Linked DNA regions of Homo sapiens: region 2 is linked to region 1. Evidence: fine-mapped expression QTL. A gene starts in region 1. The other region holds a variant in brackets. All regions are shown on one strand. Distances are between the middles of the regions.

Region 1 (8,785 bases):
TGTAGTCACCAATACCGTAAAACCCCCAAATGTCCTAAGCTTAAAATGTCAGACTGCACTTAAACTGAAAAACATCCTACCAGTTGTTGCTAACAAAAGCCAATCTTTCAACAACTGTTTTTCAAAAAATGACTCAATTACTACATCATGATTAATCTTTTACATTCTGCTTTAAGCACATCGATTTCAGGATGCTTCTCCATGCACCTATCAGTTCTAACAAGGGCCTCTTTAATATAATCCCCCAAGTCATAAGCTTCTTTCTCACTATAGTTTTACATTCCCTTGTTCAGGGAAAGTCAGCCAGTAATAAATAGGACATACACAAATAAGGTACTGTGTTCCCACTAAAACCTAAGTTTAGAGTTAACACTTAAAATTTCAACAATTAAAAACACTTTGAACTCTTTGGATATTGGTGCCATATAACTAGAAAAGCATAATCAAATTTTTACCCTACCTGCTTCTTGGTCGTGAAATAGACCTGGATCTTGATCTTGACCTCGACGGGGATCTTAATAAAAAAAGTGAAAAACACAATTATATCAATCAGTCCAAAGGAATTTCCTTAACTACTCAACACTGTATTAGGTTGGTCAGGCATAAAGAAGCTAAAACTAAACAAGATGCAACACTTGCCTTATTCTGTCTAACACACTGTCAAACAAAGTGTTACCAGACATAAGGAACCCCCATTTCAATTACTTGTTTCTATCACTCAATTGGTTAGTTTCTGTACAGGTATAACATTCTCAAACACTGTGTAATATCCAAGGGAAATACATGGTTTTCATTTGATGAGACTGGTATGAAGGAAGCAAAACTAACCTCACTTAAGGCACAGATCCCTCAGCTGGGCACTGTGGTACACAATGGCAGTCCCAGCTACTCAGGAGGCTAAGGCAGGATGAAAATAACCAGACCCCTGAACTGAGACTAATTCAGGTGATAAGGCCAGACGAAAAGAAAGCCGCCCCCCATTTGTAAGGCTTTATTCCTGGATCAAGTTATGTTTGAGAGCCATCAATCTGTCAGACAAACCAAATCAGACTGACATATCTATCTTTTAAATTTATCTAAAGAGATGGTTCATAGCTTTCTCAAATAGACCACAAGATTCAGAATTCCTGCATTTAAAGGTTTTGTGCTATTAAACAGCAATTTAACTCCCAGTAGCATTCCGTACCACGGTTTTATCGTTGGTACAGATAACAATATTGTTAATTACATGTTGCAATACTTATTTTACAATTTTTTCCATTCTATCTCCTTTTAAGGCCTTCTACAAATAGTAAAGCTCTGGTTCTTTAGTTTTTTCAGGTCTGAAACGGTCTAAAAAAAAAAATCCACATTCATTTCTGTGTACACACTACTGCCCTAGTCAACTTTCCAGTGTCTCAAATCAACCCCATCATTCCAAAAATGAGAAATGTTTCTACTTGCTTCTGATCTCTTTTCCTGGTGCTAATAGGCCTTTTTGTCGGGAAAATCAATTACCATCTTTCAGAGCTAGTATCATCCAATCTGAAGCCAGAAAAGTTTATAGCAACATGCCTACCCAGAGTGTTGAGTAGAACTGTATTGCTTGGGACCCTTGTCTACCACACGGCCTAACAAGCCTTAAAATCTCTAGTAGCCCTTTTCTTCATCTGTAAAACTAGGTTAATATTTATGTTACAAGTTACACATAAATTCCAAACTTTTACATCTCAAATATTCCCTGAAGCAATCCATTTGAATTATGTCCTTAAGACACTCTACTGATAAGATGTGAACAATCCAAACACAAGTAAGGAAAAAAAGTGTTACATACTGGAAATACCTCGATCCTTTTATAGAACCAGACCTAGATCTTCTGAGTGAAGCTGATCTTGATCTACGAAGAGAGATAGATCTTGATCGTCGAGGAGATGCTGACCTTGACCTAAAATAAAGAACTTTAAGTCCATCTCCACAGTTTTTTTTTTTTTTGGCCTGTTAAGACTTCAACTGGGGAACGGTGCAGTGGCTCATGCCCATAATCCCAGCACTGCGGGAGGATCGTTTGAGCCCAGGAGCTTGAGACCAGCCTGGGAAACAGTGCAAGACCATTTCTACAAAAATAAAAATTAGCTGGGTATGGTGGCAGTGCCTACAGTCCCAGCTACTCGGGAGGCTGAGGTAGGAGAACTGCTTAAACCCAAGAGATCATCAAGGCAGCAGTGAGTCGTGGTTATGCCCCTGTACTCCAGCCCGGGTGACAGAGCAAGACCCTGTCTCCAAAAAAAATAATGAGCTTTTTCTGTGTTGGACTACCAGTGAATTTAATAATAATACAGAAAGACTTCAGTTAAACAAGATCTCACCTTCGTCCCCTGCTCCTGCTGCGTGAGCGAGAGTATCGCCTTCCTCTGGATCGAGAATGTGATCTAGACCGTGACCTATTTTTCAAGTTAGAGAAAAAACAAAATGTCAGACAATAACTCGTTTTTAAGAGTTTGTGTGCCTCTGCTGAAATCAAATCTCAAAACTATTTAAATTTAGTGTCTCATTTGGAAATAAACTCTGGGCCTATTAGTTGTTGAGTATTTTTTTTTTTACTACCTAAAAAAAGATTTGTTAAAAGCTGAATTACAACTTAGCATTACATAATATAAAACACTGTAATGTGTATTTAAAATAAACCTTGCAAGTTTGCAGGTCGACCCTCTTTGGCCCATGGTCTAGTAGATCTAGACGATCTAGAAGTATCTATAGCCGATCGCTGCATCTAGATGTTTTCTTCAATCTAACGACGATCAAACTGACAGCCAAATGAGCCAGGTGAGGCTTGATTGACGCAAGAAGATTTTTCTAGTTGGGAATGTGGTCAATCTGGTGTTCCTCTTTCTAAACCGGAGGGGGGCCCCAATTGTAAGCCAAATTTACTGTTACGGCGATCACCGTCTCAAATTTTCTGCCCTTTAAAGAATAAGGTGAAGCTAGGTGTAGATGACTCGAGGGGATCTGGCCTCTTATGCTGATCACCTCAAGGTCTAGGAGGATCTTAATTGTCGGATTTGCAAGGCGCCTCAGCATGATATCATAAGGCTCGTGACATTCTGAATCAAGGCGACTGACTCAAACGAAGAAACCTGAAAGGTTTTGACCAGGTTGATTATTAATATAGTAACATTTTTTTAATTAAACAAAAATTGTAAAATACACCTGTACAATTAACATTCAAGTTTATAGAAAAACACTAGTTTCTGCCTTGCTAATAAAAGAATTACTTGATTAACTAGAATACCAACCATTCCTTTATTAAAATAAATACCTGCTTCTTCTTCGCCGGCTGTAACGATGACAATCATAAGCATAATGTCCCTTTTCGCCACACTCATAGCATCTATCATTTGGATCAAAGGGACGTCGGGCAGGTGGTCTATCAAAACGTGATCTCCGAGGCATGCCTGTCGATAGTTCAACCCTCACTCGGGAGCCACAAATCACCCTAATAAAAGCAAATTAACAAAATTCTAAAGTTAAAAATATATTCAGGACTTATAGATTTAAAAAGAACTCTTTCCAACCACTCACTCTTTCCAACCACTCCTTCCCCCCCAACAAACTTTGGCGGTCTTTACCAAGCCCTAACTCCATCTCCGCTATCTTCTTTAACCTTCGTGTGCCTTTAGCATTTAACACTATGACCAGCTATTTAAGGTCTCTTCCAGACTTCAGAATCCAAATTTAGCACTAAGTTCATTATCTAGCCACAGTATATTTTAATGAACAGAAGATTCATAACATCTTACTTACTTTCCATCCAGTCCTCGTACTGCATCTTCTGCATCTCTAGGATCTTCGAATTCCACAAAGGCAAATCCTGGAGGATTTCTCGCAATCCATACAGTTCTTAAAGGACCATAATAACTGAAAGCCCTTTCTAACTCTCCTTTGCCAGCGCCAGTTCCCAGGTTACCAACATACACCTTGGTTTCTGTTTAAAAACGCAAATAGAAGAATGCACGTTACGCAAAATCTGGCCCAAGTTTCAATTACTTATTTGCCTTAAAACGGGCCATCCTCAAGATTGGGTAAAGCACATTTAATGCCCTCTATCCAAGACAAAACTTAGTCGTAAAACTGGTGAAAGTCCGCAAATCCCTGAGAAACTAGACTTTTGACAAAATTCTTAACGTTCTAAATAATGCGGGGTGACCCTCCCGAACACAAGCAGAAACGCGTGGTAGGATACACCGAGGCGTGGGGCGGAACCTGGCCCGGCCCCACCCATGAGTCCCGGCAGCCCCGGGCGCACCGGGAGCGCGCGGGCCCGCAGCGGCAGCGGCGTCGGCGGCGGGAGGGCCTCGGTAGGGGCCGGGCCAGGAGAGCAGGGCTGCGCCGGCTCTCGTCCTCCGCGGCAAACGTCCCAGGCACAGGCTCGCCCAAGACTCCAGCTCCCCGCCCCAGAGCCATAAACCGCGCTGGAAATAACTAAAAAAAACCCAGCCGCCAGTCGCAGATTACGTCCCCATTCCCATTCCGCAATTTAACCGATTGTTTGACGAGAACATGCAGCTCACAGCTGCCAATTTCGTTCTATCTCAAACACAACCACGATCTTACAGCTGCGGCCAGATCTGTCCGCTGAAGTGGCGGGAAAGCGCTGAGGAAATGCGCCACCACGGTCCTCAATGTGCGCAAAATGGCAGCCGCCGCCGAGGGCGGGGGGGGAGGGGGGCCGGCGGGCAGCTCCGAGAAAGGCAACGCGAAAACCGTCATCTCAACCCTGCTTTAGGCTGGATTGGGCCACAAAAATGCCCAAGAGTACGGAACTCGGCAGAGATGTACACCCGCCATCCCGTCTCCCTTCAGCACCCCGCCTCCGCTGCCTCCGGCTTCGTCTGGCGTGCTCCTAAGCCGCCATTACGCACGCGGAATAACCGTCTCCCAACCTCCGCGACAACCCTACGGCCTCGCAGTGCTCACTACACCCACACCAACGTCCCTCACCGGACTCCAGCTTCTTACCTCCTCCGTACCGCCCGTAACGCGACATGATGACAGACCCGCGTGCTCGGCTCTTTAGCAAGCAGCGCCCAGGGCTCGAGTGACGCAAAAGCTGACACACACCTTCACCCGCCAAGAGTCCCGGCGGCACTACGAGGAAGAGCCCGGGTTCGCGTTTATATATGCGGCCGCTGCGCTTTGCGCATGCGTCATCTCGTTGTTCTGCGCGGCACAAAGGAGCTGGGCGGAAACAGCCAAGAAACGACGCGGAAGGAACTGAAGAGACTAACACGCGGGTCATGGGCGGAGGGATACGTTTCTATGGGAACGCCACGATCTCTCCAGTAAACCTGAGGCCTTCCCCATGCTGTCCCGCCCCCTCCTCTCCCCGTTTTCTACACCCTCCTTGTCTTCTTTCCCGTCTCCCTACCCTCTGCCTCCTTTCGTTTTTCCCCAGGCTAGGGACCCTCAGCCTTAACAATCTTAGTACGGATGCATTAGACCGGCCTATGAAAGGCTGTACAATTTAACCGCTGATGTTGCAGCCGTCGCGCCCTTCTGCTGGGGGACCTGGCCTAGTCAGCTACTCTGATCTTTGGGGCTCATCAGAGGTAATCGAAGGTTTGGCCATGGTGAAAAGTCCATGAACCCCGCCATTCTGAGTAGTGGTTTTTACACCATAGACCTTGACGCACCCTGGGACTGGTGGTAAAGCCTCCTGTCCTACACGCCCCCTCCAACTTCTTTTGAACCAGTCACCAGTTTGCACCACCACGGTCTGAGTTCTTGGAGTCTGAAAGACAAAGGAATAGAGCTGTGGGGTCCCGCTCCCCCCTCCCCCCTTTATATTGAAATTGTGACAAAACCCTGAATGTTTAAAGCATTTTGGCCAGTGACAATTTGGAAATTATTTGCATCTGAAGCTCAAAGTAACTGATTTGCTTTTCCTAATGCTTTCTGCTTTGTAACACGTGTGATCCACCAATACTCCGATCCTGAGGACTGGGACTCCTAAGTCATCTTTGTGTATCTCCACTCAGTGGAAATAGCAGCCTTGCTGCTCAGCCACTCAACAGTACCAAATAAATGCAAAACTTCTTTACATTAGAATTGCTCTAGACACCAACTACAAATAGAGAAAAAGTTCTTTTTTGCTAGAAACATAGACATTACATCGTAAATTCTTGGAATACACAAAAGTTGGAAATGTACATAAAAAAAGACATTTAGGTATTTGCATTTTTATCTTTTTCGTCTTTTGCAACTTCATTTGGTGAGTATAGGTGTGGAATGGAGAGTACAGGGAAAGCAGGCCTAGTTGGTGAATAAAGCATGGATTCTTTCCAGGTCATGCTATGATTTTATGCATATTTTTTACGTTGATTAAGTTATGGAGAGAATTAATCTCTCTCAGGAAGATCTCTAAGAAGAAAATAGAAGCTCTGTAGAGTATATGTGTTCTCCCTTAGTCTTGGTGATTTTTTTCTTAACAAGGTTCTTCTCAAAAGAAACAATAATTATAAAGATCTATAGGTTCTTCTCAAAAGAATTAAACAATAATTATAAAGACTATATAGGGGCCAGGCGCAGTGGCTCACGCCTGTAATGCCAGCACTTTGGGAGGCCGAGGCGGGCGGATTGCCTGAGCTCAGGAGTTTGAGACCAGCCTGGGCAACACAGTAAAACCCTGTCCCTACTAAAATACAAAAAATTAGCCTGGCGTGGTGGCGTGTGCCTGTAGTCCCAGCTACTCCGGAGGCTGAGGCAGGAGAACTGCTTGAACCCAGGAGGCGGAGGTTGCAGTGAGCTGAGATCGTGCCACTGCACTCCAGCCTGGGCGACAGAGCAAGACTCCATCTCAAAAAAAAAGATTATATGGTATCTGAAAGATAAAATATAAATTCTGTAAAGCCTCACTAAGTTGACTTTCTTCTGTTAAGAAGCTATGAAAATTACTGTTGAGGCCGCGCGCAGTGGCTCATGCCTGTAATCCCAGCACTTTGGGAGGCTGAAGCTGGCGGATCACCTGAGGTCAGGAGTTCGAGACCAGCCTGACCAACATGGAGGAACCCCGTCTCTACTAAAAATACAAAATTAGCTGGGCGTGGTGGCGCATGCCTGTAATCCCAGCTACTCGGGAGGCTGAGGCAGGAGAATCGCTTGAACCTGAGAGGTGGAGGTTGTGGTGAGCTGAGATCTTGCCATTGCACTACAGCCTGAGCAACAAGAGCAAAACTCCTAGGCCGGGCGCTGTGACTCACATCTGTAATCCCAGCACTCTGGGAGGCCGAGGCGGGCGGATCACCTAAGGTCAGAAGTTCAAGACCAGCCTGGCCATGGTGAAACCCCCGTCTCTACTAAAAATACAAAAAATTAGCCAGGCGTGGTGGTGCGCACCTGTAATCCCAGCTACTTGGGAGGCTGAGGCAGGAGAATTGCTTGAACCCGGGAGGTGGAGGTTGCAGGGAGCCGAGATTGCGCCATTGCACTCCAGCCTGGGCAACAAGAGTGAAACTCCATCTCCAAAACAAAAGAGCAAAACTCCGACTCAAAAAAAAAGAAAATTACTGTTGAGCCAAGCATAGATAACTGCTTGAAAGACAGTGCATGTTATACTGTATAATTCCTAATAAACCTCAATAAACTTTTTTTTTTCCAATAAACTTTTTTTGACTCTGAATACAAAGTCTAAGTCAGGTTTTGTGGCTCATGCCGGTAATCTCTGCACTTTGGGAGGTTGAGGTGGGAGGATATCTTGAGGCCAGGACTTTGAGACCAGCCTGGGCAACAGAACCAGACCCCCATCTCTACCAACAAAACAAAACAAAGTCTATAGTTGTACTAAAGAAATTTCTAAGCAAGTAATAGTAAACAGAAGCAGTTTTAAAATTTATAACCAATTGCTTTCAAATCCTGATTCACAGACATGCTTGTCTTGCAGACAGGTGTTCAATAAGCTAATTACATACTGTTTATTCCTATGAAAGCAGGGCCAGTACAAGGCCAGGCTTTGTTAATCTGGTTACCATGAAAAAATAATAGTACTGTATACTATTTCCATAGACTATTCTACTTTCTACTGAACACTCTTTCTCTAAGAACAGGCAACCAATTCTTTTCACTAAATGTCAGTCCAAATCAGGGAGATTTTACTGTGCAGAGAACTTTTATTCCTGCTGATTCTTGTTGAAATCACATTCACCCACATAAGTTTCTGCCTCTAGAAATCTGTTAAATTTAGATTACATTCTCAGATTGTTTGAATATGAAAACTACTTTCTTCAAATATTGTAATATTTCCTAATATGAAATATTAGTTATTAACATGTTACTATTGTTAAATTTTAAAAATATTATTAGTTTAGGAAAGGGGAGTAATTCATAAGCCTTTTACAGCAGTTTTCAAAATGTATCTGCATTTTCTACATTTGGTATTTCCAGATAAATATTAAAGAAAAAGTTCCCTTTTTAATCGTACTTCTCTCACCATTTCAGTTTCACTTTTAAGTCATTATCACCATTTGAGCTTGGATGTGAAAACGTTAAAACAAGAAAGGAAAAAAAATTTAAATGTTTTGCACATTAGTCTATTTTGTTTGTTTTTTTGTTTTTAAGGCAGGGCAAGAAGTGGGCAGACCTCAGACTCCGCCTCCTGGACCCCAACTTCCCCCTCTGCCACACCAATATTCTATTTTTAATATAAATAAGTAGTCTATGCTAAAAAATACTAGTCTTTTTTTTTTTTTAATTTTATTTTTTGAGACAGAGTCTTGCTCTGTCGCCCAGGCTGGAGTGCAGTGGCACGATCTTG
Region 2 (8,785 bases), 22 kb before region 1:
ATTCATCTCTATATTTTATTTGACTTTGACAAATCCTGTAATTATGTCATAATATGATGAACGTTTTGAGAAAAGTCTATTCTAAGTATAATGAGAACAAAGAAAAAAAAGATTGGTCCTGGCTATAGAGGTTAGAATATTTCACAAGAAGAAATTATGTTAGAGAATATTCTTGAACGATCAATTGGACTTTGCCAGACTGTGGTGGGCATAGGGGACCCAGAAGGAACATTCATTCTAGTTATGAGAAAGGGCCCAGAGACATGGCGAATCTGGGGGACAAATTCCACATTTTCCATATACTTGATCATTAAGCACATGACCAAGTGTGTCAGTGCATGAGGATGGACAAGATAGATTGGAGCCTTCACTGTTTTTTTCTTCTCATTTACCAAAAATTTCATCATTTTAGAATTGTCCCAGTTTTCTAATTTTAAGTCAGGGCTTCTTTGTCATGCTTAAAGTCTTACCCTCTGTGCCCTCTGCTCTGTGTTCTATATGGTAGCCTGAAATTTGGCCCTGTTATATATATTTATTTATGCCAGACTCCTGAAGGTGTTCAAGCATACCATTTATCAAATATTTCCATGTAATGTGGCAGCTAATAACAGCTTCGTTTTACAGAGGGAAGAGCTGAAGCAAACACTGATTTGTAGATTGCTTGGTAACAGGAAAGAGACCTGATGTATGCCCTCTGTCTTTCCTTCACAAAAATTTTGTAGCTTTCTTTGTTTCTTCAAGCCTTCTACCTGTAGTTATACTTTAAGGGAGATAATTATAAGCAATTTTGATTGACCTGAGTCGATCACACTAGGACTGTCATAAGGGTTAGATTTTGAGTTGACTGTGGCTTTAAGGAAGAATTAAATATTGTAACACCATTTAAAGTTATAGAAGAAAGCATAAGTTACCACTCAGAATATAGGTTGGTAAGACTAAAATCTTCCTGAGCCCATGAGAATACCTGCTTTTTTTTCCAAGTCTAATTGTTTCATGAAGAATTGCTGAGCATGGTGGCTCATGCTTGTAAACCCAGTACTTTGGGAGGCTGAGGCAGGAGGATTGCTTGAGCCCAGGAGTTTGAAACCAGCCTGCGCAACAAAGTGAGACCCCCATCTCTTCAAATAATTTAAAAATTAGCCAGGGGTGCTGGTACATGCCTGGGGTCCCAGCTACTCAGGAAGCTGAGACAGGAGGATTACCTGAGCCTGGCAGGTCGAGGCTGCATTGAGCTGTGATCATGCCACTGCACTACAGCCTGGGTAACAGAACGAGACCCTCGCTCTTAAACACACACATACACACACACACACACGTATATATATAATTGGGCATACACCTGTAGTCCTAGCTACTCAGGAGGCTGAGGCAGGAGGATCACTTGAGCATAGCAGGACCCTGTCTTTAAAAAAGAAAAAGAAGAATTATTGTTGCCTTTTTCTTTTCATTTCTTTTCTTTTTTTTGTTTTGTTTTGTTTTGTTTTTTTGAGACAGAGTCTCACTCTGTCTGGAGTGCAGTGGTGAAATCTTGGCTCACCACAACCTCCATCTCCCGGGTTCAAGCGATTCTTGTGCCTCAGTCTACTGAGTAGCTGATATTACAGGTATGCGCCACCACGCCTGGCTAATTTTTGTATTTTTAGTAGAGACGGGGTTTCGCCATGTTGCCCAGGCTGGTCTCAAACTCCTGACCTCAAGTGATCCGCCCACCTCAGCCTCCCAAACCTCTGGGATTACAGGCATGAGCCACCATGCAAGTCTGGGAGGTAGTATATCATGTAAACATTGCAGGACAAAAGCATACCCAAGTGGGTCACACTGCTATCTAGGATTTGGCCTTTGGCTTTCAAGATCCAAAAAGTTCAACTATGAATTCTGCCAGAACTGATCAGGGTTTAGAGGATGTAAAGCAACCTCTTTCTATTGTGTCTCTAGCACCATCTACTGGGAAACAAAAGTGCCTTTATTTTTTTTTTTTTATTTTTTTTTTTTTTGAGACGGAGTCTCGCTCTGTCGCCCAGGCTGGAGTGCAGTGGCGGGATCTCGGCTCACTGCAAGCTCCGCCTCCCGGGTTCACGCCATTCTCCTGCCTCAGCCTCCCAAGTAGCTGGGACTACAGGCGCCCGCCACTACGCCCGGCTAATTTTTTGTATTTTTAGTAGAGACGGGTTTTCACCGTTTTAGCCGGGATGGTCTCGATCTCCTGACCTCGTGATCCGCCCGCCTCGGCCTGCCAACGTGCTGGGATTACAGGCATGAGCCACCCCGCCTGGCCAAGTCTCTCACATTTAATCCCAACACAATGCTGTATACAAACCAAGTGACTCAGAATAAGAATGCAAAAGTAAACCAGACAAATGCAAGCCGAAGTAGTCTCGGCCGGGCTCAGTGGCTCCTGCCTATAATCCCAGCACTTTGGGAGGCCGAGATGGGCAGATCACCTGAGACCAGCTTGGCCAAAACGGTGAAAGCCCATCTCTACTAAAAATACAACAATTAGCTGGGTGTGGTGGCAGGCACCTGTAATCCCAGCTACTTGGGAGGCTGAGGCAGAAGAATCGCTTGAACCTGGGAGGCCAAGGTTGTGGTGAGCCGAGATCACGCCACTGCACTCCAGCCTGGGCAACAAGAGCAAAACTCTGTCTTAAAAAAAAATTGGTTGCATGTGCAAATATTCCCTATTTAAAAATTTGGCCAGATCACACCTGTAATCCCAGCACTTTGGGAGGCCAAGGTGGGTGGGTCACTTGAGGTCAGAAGTTTGAGACCAGCCTGGCCAACATGTTGAAACCCCGTCTCTACAAAAAATACAAAAATTGGCTGGGCATGGTGGTGTGCCCCTGTAATCCCATCTGTTTGGGAGGCTGAGGCGGGAGAATCACTTGAACCCAGGAGGCAGAGATTGCAGTGAGCCAAGGTTGAGCCACTGCACTCCAGCTTGGGCGACAGAGTGAGACTCCGTCTCAAGAAAAAAAAAAAAAAAAAGAGCAAGGAATCCTTTGTGCACTTCCCAGATTCTCTCGGTTAAACAGTGGACACCCACACACCAGGATGGTATCGCCTGGACCTCAGTGTCTCACTTGAGTGCTTCGTACCTAGGCATCCTGAGGCTGTATGTGAACTCAGAACTCCAGTCTTCAGGCACTAGGAAGACTACATTTCTGAACAGCAGTTCTGAGTTTAAGAAAAGAAATGGGGCCGGGTGCAGTGGTTCACGCCTGTAATCCCAGCCCTTTGGGAGGCCAAGGCAGGTGGTTCACGAGGTCAGGAGTTCGAGACCACTCTGGCCAATATGGTGAAACCCCGTCTCTACTAAAAATACAAAAATTAGCTGGGCATGATGGTGCGTGCCTGTAGTCCCAGCTCCTCGGGAGGCTGAGGCAGGAGAATCACTTGAACCAGGAGGCAGAGGTTGCAGTGAGCCTAGACTGGCCATTGCACTCCAGCCCAGGCAACAGAGGGAGACTACGTCTCAAAAAAAAAAAAAAAAGAAAAAGGAAAAATAAATGAAATGTCCTCTTTTACTCAGATAGATTTGTGTGTTCTCTCAGCATTTAGGAACCCACAAAAGCAGAACCAAATGTTTTAAATGACTGGCAATTGGTTCTTCTTTTACTTTTTAAATTATTTTAATGGTAAGGTACAAGTTCCTGCTTTTTCTTAGCCTCCTAAGATTTCAGCCCTACTTTGCATGCTACTTCTCTCCCCTGATTACAGTGGAAGCCAAGTTCCTAAAATTGCCATTTGACCACATGAAAGGGAAAAATAATTATCACCCTAAAAGAGTATGTTAACCTCCTAACATTTGCATTTACCTTTAAAATATATGAGACAGCTCTGGGACTATAAGAAAACTTTTTAGGCCAGGAGTGGTGGCTCACACCTGTAATCCCAGCACTTTGGGAGGCCAAGGCAGGTGGACCACCTGAGGTCAGGAGTTGGAGACTAGCCTGGCCAACATGGTGAAACCCCATCTCTACTAAAAATACAAAAATTAGCTGGGCGTGGTGGTGTGTGCCTGTAATCCCAGCTACTTGGGAGGCTGAGGTGGGAGAATCACTTGAACCTGGGAGGCAGAGGTGGCAGTGAGCTGAGATTGTGCCATTGCACTCCAGCCTGGGCGACGAGCAAAACTCTGTCTCAAAAAAAAAAAACTTTTTTTTTGGCTGGGTGCAGTGGCTCACGCCTATAATACTAGCACTTTGGGAGGCCGAGGTGGGCAGATCACCTGTCAGGAGTTCACGACCAGCCTGGCCAACATGGTGAAACCCCGTCTCTACTAAAAATACAAAAGCATGGTGGTGTGCACCTGTAATCCCAGCTACTCATGAGGCTGAGACAGAAGAATCACTTGAACCCAGGAGGCGGAGGTTGCACTGAGCTGAGATCGCGCCACTGCGCTCCAGCCTGGGTGACAGAGCAAGACTCCATCTCAAAAAACAAAACAAAACAAAACAAAACAAAAACTCAACCGTAACATTGTTTAAGCCTCTGAAACAGAGCCCTTTTCTTTTCCTCTTCAAGAAAAAATGGCTGGAGTGATTTGGCCTGCTACAGAGGAAACTGGTATTCTCTGTACTTGGTACAAGGTTCTAGCACCTGGCTGTTACTACTCCTGGGTG[G/T]GCCATAATTTTAAGAGGAAGTGGACCTCTGCCATCATCTTATCCTGGGGTTTTCCACCTGCGCTGCTCAGAACCTGTACTTGATTCAGCTAGAACAACTCTGGCTTTTATGTATATGTTACTATATATTTATGAGTATATATTTTCCATTGTCCCTTGGAATCCATGGAGGATTGGTTCCAGGACCCCCTACTGATACTTAAATCATTAGATACTCTAGTTCCTTCTATAAAATGGTGCAGTATTTGCATATAACCTGAGCCCATACTCCCATATACTCTATTTATTTGAGGGTTTTTTTTTTCTCTTCCCCACCCTCTCCATATTTGTTTTTTAAGACAGTCTCATTCTGTTACCTATGCTGGAGTGCAGTGGTGCAATCATGGTTCACTGTAGCCTCGACCTCCTGGGCTCAAGCAATCCTCCTGCCTCAGCCTCCTGAGTAGCTGAGACCACAGGGACACATCACTATGCCTGGCTAATTTTTTACATTTATTTATTTATTTATTTTATTATTTTGGTAGAGATGGGGTCTCTGCATGTTTCCCAGGATCTGGGCTCCCATCTCCTTAACAAATTAAAATGAAGGCGGAGAGAGTAGAACCAGTGAGCCTTTGTGGAGGCTCTATATAAAGATGAGACTTGGGCATTTATCACCTTTGTTTTCTGTCTCTTCCCATCAGGAGAAGTTGCCCCAGTGCAAGGCACTGCATTCGACCTGAGAAAGCCAGTGGAGCTTGGAAAACACCTGCAGGACTTCCATCTCAATGGTTTTGACCACAATTTCTGTCTGAAGGGATCTAAAGAAAAGCATTTTTGTGCAAGGTCAGGTACTTTTCACTTCCTGAGTCTGTAAGGAAGAAATGACACCAAGTCCTATTTTCCTTTGGAGCTTTTCCTCTGGCCATATCAATAGCATTTACTATGCTACAAGTGACCCAATACCACATCCCATATTTTCTCAAAGCTCCCATGGCACAGGTGAGCTCTGTAGAATTTATCCCAGTCCCCCACCTGCCATTACCCCTATTCCCCCTGCTTGGCACCCGCTCTCTCCCTCTCTGCCTGTTCTTTAAGGCCCATTTTCTGTTAGAAGCCTTAACTCTTCCTAGTGAAGTCACCTCGGCTGTCACTGAACTTCCAGAGCCTTTGTGCTTTCTCGATCTGTGACTTATGCCTGCCTACTCCATGGCCAGTTGGAGGCTAGGCATCTCCTGCAGCACTCACCGCCTCCAGCCTTGACCGATAGACACTTGTGTGCACGCTCTCGCCTTCTCACCAAATCCCAGTTCCTCATGCCATTTCATCTTTGTGAAGCCCTACCTCTACCCCAACACCTAATATCATCCTTGGCACTAGCAAATAATGAATAAATGTTTGCAGAATTAACAGTTTTGTGTGTGTGCGTGTGTGTGACGGAGTCTTGCTCTGTCGCCCAGACTGGAATGCAGTGGTGCGATCTAGGTTTACTGCAACCTCCGCCTCCCGGGTTCAAGTGATTCTCCTGCCTCAGCCTCCTGAGTAGCTGGGATAACAGGCACGTGCCACTATGCCCAGCTAATTTTTGTATTTTTAGTAGAGATGGGGTTTCACAATGTTGGTCAGGCTGGTCTTGAACTCCTGACCTTGTAATCCACCCACCTCGGCCTCCCAAAGTGCTGGGATTACAGGTGTAAGCCACTGCACCCGGTCAACAGTTTTTAAATAAAGCAGAAAAAATGACTCAAACCAAATAGTGACAGAAAGAAGATCAAAGACCTTCTCCGGGCTGGGCGTGGTGGCTCATGCCTGTAATCCCAGCACTTTAGGTGGCTGAGGTGGGCAGATCACTTGAGGTCAGGAGTTTGAGACCAGCCTCGCCAACATGGTGAAACGCCGTCTCTACTAAAAATATAAAAATTAGCCAGGCATGGTGGTGGGCACCTATAATCTCAGCTACTCAGGAGGCTGAGGCAGGAGAATCACTTGAACCCAGGGGGTGGAAGTTGTAGTGAGCCGAGATCACGCCACTGCACTCCAGGCTAGGCAACAGAGCAAAACTCCATCTCAAAAAAAAAAAAAGAATCTCAGGCCAGGTGCAGTGGCTCTCATGCCTGTAATCCCAGCACTTTTGGAGGCTGAGGTGGTCAGATCACCTGAGGTCAGTAGTTCAAGACCAGTTGGGCCAACATGATGAAACCCCGACAATACTAAAAGTACAAAAAATTAGCCGGATGTGGTGGCAGGTACCTGTAATCCCAGCTACTCTAGAGGCTGAGGCAGGAGAATTGCTTTAACCAAGGGGGCGGAGGTTGCAGTGAGCCAAGATCGCACCACTGCACTCCTCCCTGGGTGACAGAGCCAGACTCCATCTCAAAACAAACAAACAAACAAAAATTAGCTGGACATGGTAGTGCGCACCTGCAGTCCCAGCTACTGGGGAGCTGAAGTGGGAGAATTGCTTGAGCCCGGGAGGCTGAGGTTGCAGTGAGCCGAGGTCGCGCCACTGCACTCCAGCCTGGGCAATAGAGAAAGACTCTATTTCAAAAAAAAAAAAAAAAAAAAAAAGAATCTCAGCCTCTCCAGGACCTTCCTCTCTCCAACCTGGCTGCTGCCTTCCTCCCTACTCCCCAGCTGGCAGGAGTGAGTCTGTTTTGTGATGCCCCAAAGAAGCTACTGAGGATCCTGAAAGCCACCTGCTCATGCCTTGCCTTTGAGACTGGAAGAATTTTCCATCATGCTCTTCCTACCTTCATCTCCTCCTTATATCTTGTCCCTGCTCTGTGGCTGGGTCTGATTCCTGTCTCAAAGCCGCTTCCCAGCTTCTACTCCTCCCCACCTGCTTTTCTGCCCTGGACTCATGTTGTTTGTATTTCTTACCAGGGTGCATCATGCTGCAAGCGGGCGGGTACTAGAAGTATACACCACCCAGCCCGGGGTCCAGTTTTACACGGGCAACTTCCTGGATGGCACATTAAAGGGCAAGAATGGAGCTGTCTATCCCAAGCACTCCGGTTTCTGCCTGGAGACTCAGAACTGGCCTGATGCAGTCAATCAGGTAATGCCACAGGCTGGCTTTTCAGAGTAGAGTTGTGTCCAAGGTCACACTGTACGACAGAGTTCACTACACTCGAATCAGCTTGTATGATTCAAAAGTTCATGCTTTGTTTGTTTGGTTTGTTTTTTGAGACAGAGTCTCACTCTTGTCGCCTAGGCTGTAGTGCAGTGGCACGATCTCAGCTCACTGCAACCTCCGCCTCCTGGGCACGATCTCAGCTCACTGCAACCTCCGCCTCCTGGGTCCAAGCGATTCTCCTGCCCCAGCCTTCCAAGTAGCTAGGATTACAGGCGCCTACCACCATGCCTGCTTAATTTTTGTATTTTTAGTAGAGACAGGGTTCCACCATGTTGGCCAGGCTGGTCTCAAAACCCCTGACCTCAGGTGATCCACCTGCCTTGGCCTCCCAAAGTGCTAGGATTATAGGCGTGAGCCACTGTGCCCGGCTCAAAAGTTCATGCTTATTCTCTTCTGCAAGTCACAGAAAACCCATAGCCAAGCTACTAACATGGGATTTACATGGTTTTAAGAAAGCTGAAATTTTGTACCTTCAAAGCCTTTATCCAGTTTGTTTCTCCTTAACAATACCTTCTCGTTTTCTGCAGCCACACTTAAGGAGAGCTTCCATATCGTCTCCTCCTATGTGCTCCCTCATAACTTTCTTTTCTGGTTGTTACCCAGAGCAGTACTCCTGAAAGTGCCAGCCCACAATAAGAAGCTTGCACCTTGGGCTGGGCAAGGTGGCTCATGCCTGTAATCCCAGCACTTTGGGAGGCTGAGGCGGGAGGATTGCTTGAGCCTGAGATTGAGGCTAACCTGGGCAACACAGGGAGACCCCATCTTTACAGATTATTAGAAAAATTAGCCAGGTGTGGTAGTGCACACCTGTGGCCCCAGCTACTTGGGAGGCTGAGGTGGGAGGATCCCTGAGCCTGGGAGGTCAAGGCTGCAGTGAGCCATGATCACACCACTGCACTCCAGCCTGTGCAACAGAATGAGACCCTGTCTTTAAAAAAAAAAAAAAAAAAGGGCCAGGTGCGGTGGCTCACACCTGTAATCCCAGCACTTTGAGAGTCTGAGGCAGGTGTATCACTTGAGGTCAGGAGTTCGAGACCAGCCCGGTCAA

Which allele goes with the higher level. Alleles are on the strand shown, and positions count from the first base shown. SD is a standard deviation of normalised expression in the study named.
For the expression in visceral fat of the gene that starts at base 5,128 in region 1, allele G in region 2 goes with a lower level than allele T (moderate effect, 0.43 SD a copy in GTEx).

The links. PIP is the estimated chance that this variant, and not a neighbour inherited with it, causes the effect.
Region 2: its variant is fine-mapped to the expression of SRSF7 in visceral fat (GTEx, PIP above 0.99).

What each region holds. Positions count from the first base shown.
Region 1 is chr2:38,746,234-38,755,018 of GRCh38, forward strand. It overlaps SRSF7 (serine and arginine rich splicing factor 7), which reads right to left and starts at 5,128. Exons shown (of 8, transcript NM_001031684.3): 1 at 4,996-5,128; 2 at 3,781-3,961; 3 at 3,296-3,472; 4 at 2,346-2,420; 5 at 1,814-1,924; 6 at 461-514. The coding sequence starts at 5,023. RefSeq lists silencers at 4,213-4,402, 4,613-4,712 and an enhancer at 5,573-5,632.
Region 2 is chr2:38,724,251-38,733,035 of GRCh38, forward strand. GALM (galactose mutarotase) reads left to right here. Exons shown (of 7, transcript NM_138801.3): 5 at 5,306-5,447; 6 at 7,485-7,659. All of the region lies in intron 1 of LOC124905993 (a long non-coding RNA gene), which reads right to left. Among named protein-coding and RNA genes, the nearest start is that of SRSF7, 23 kb to the right of the region's middle. The variant G/T (reference allele first, on the strand shown) is at 4,623.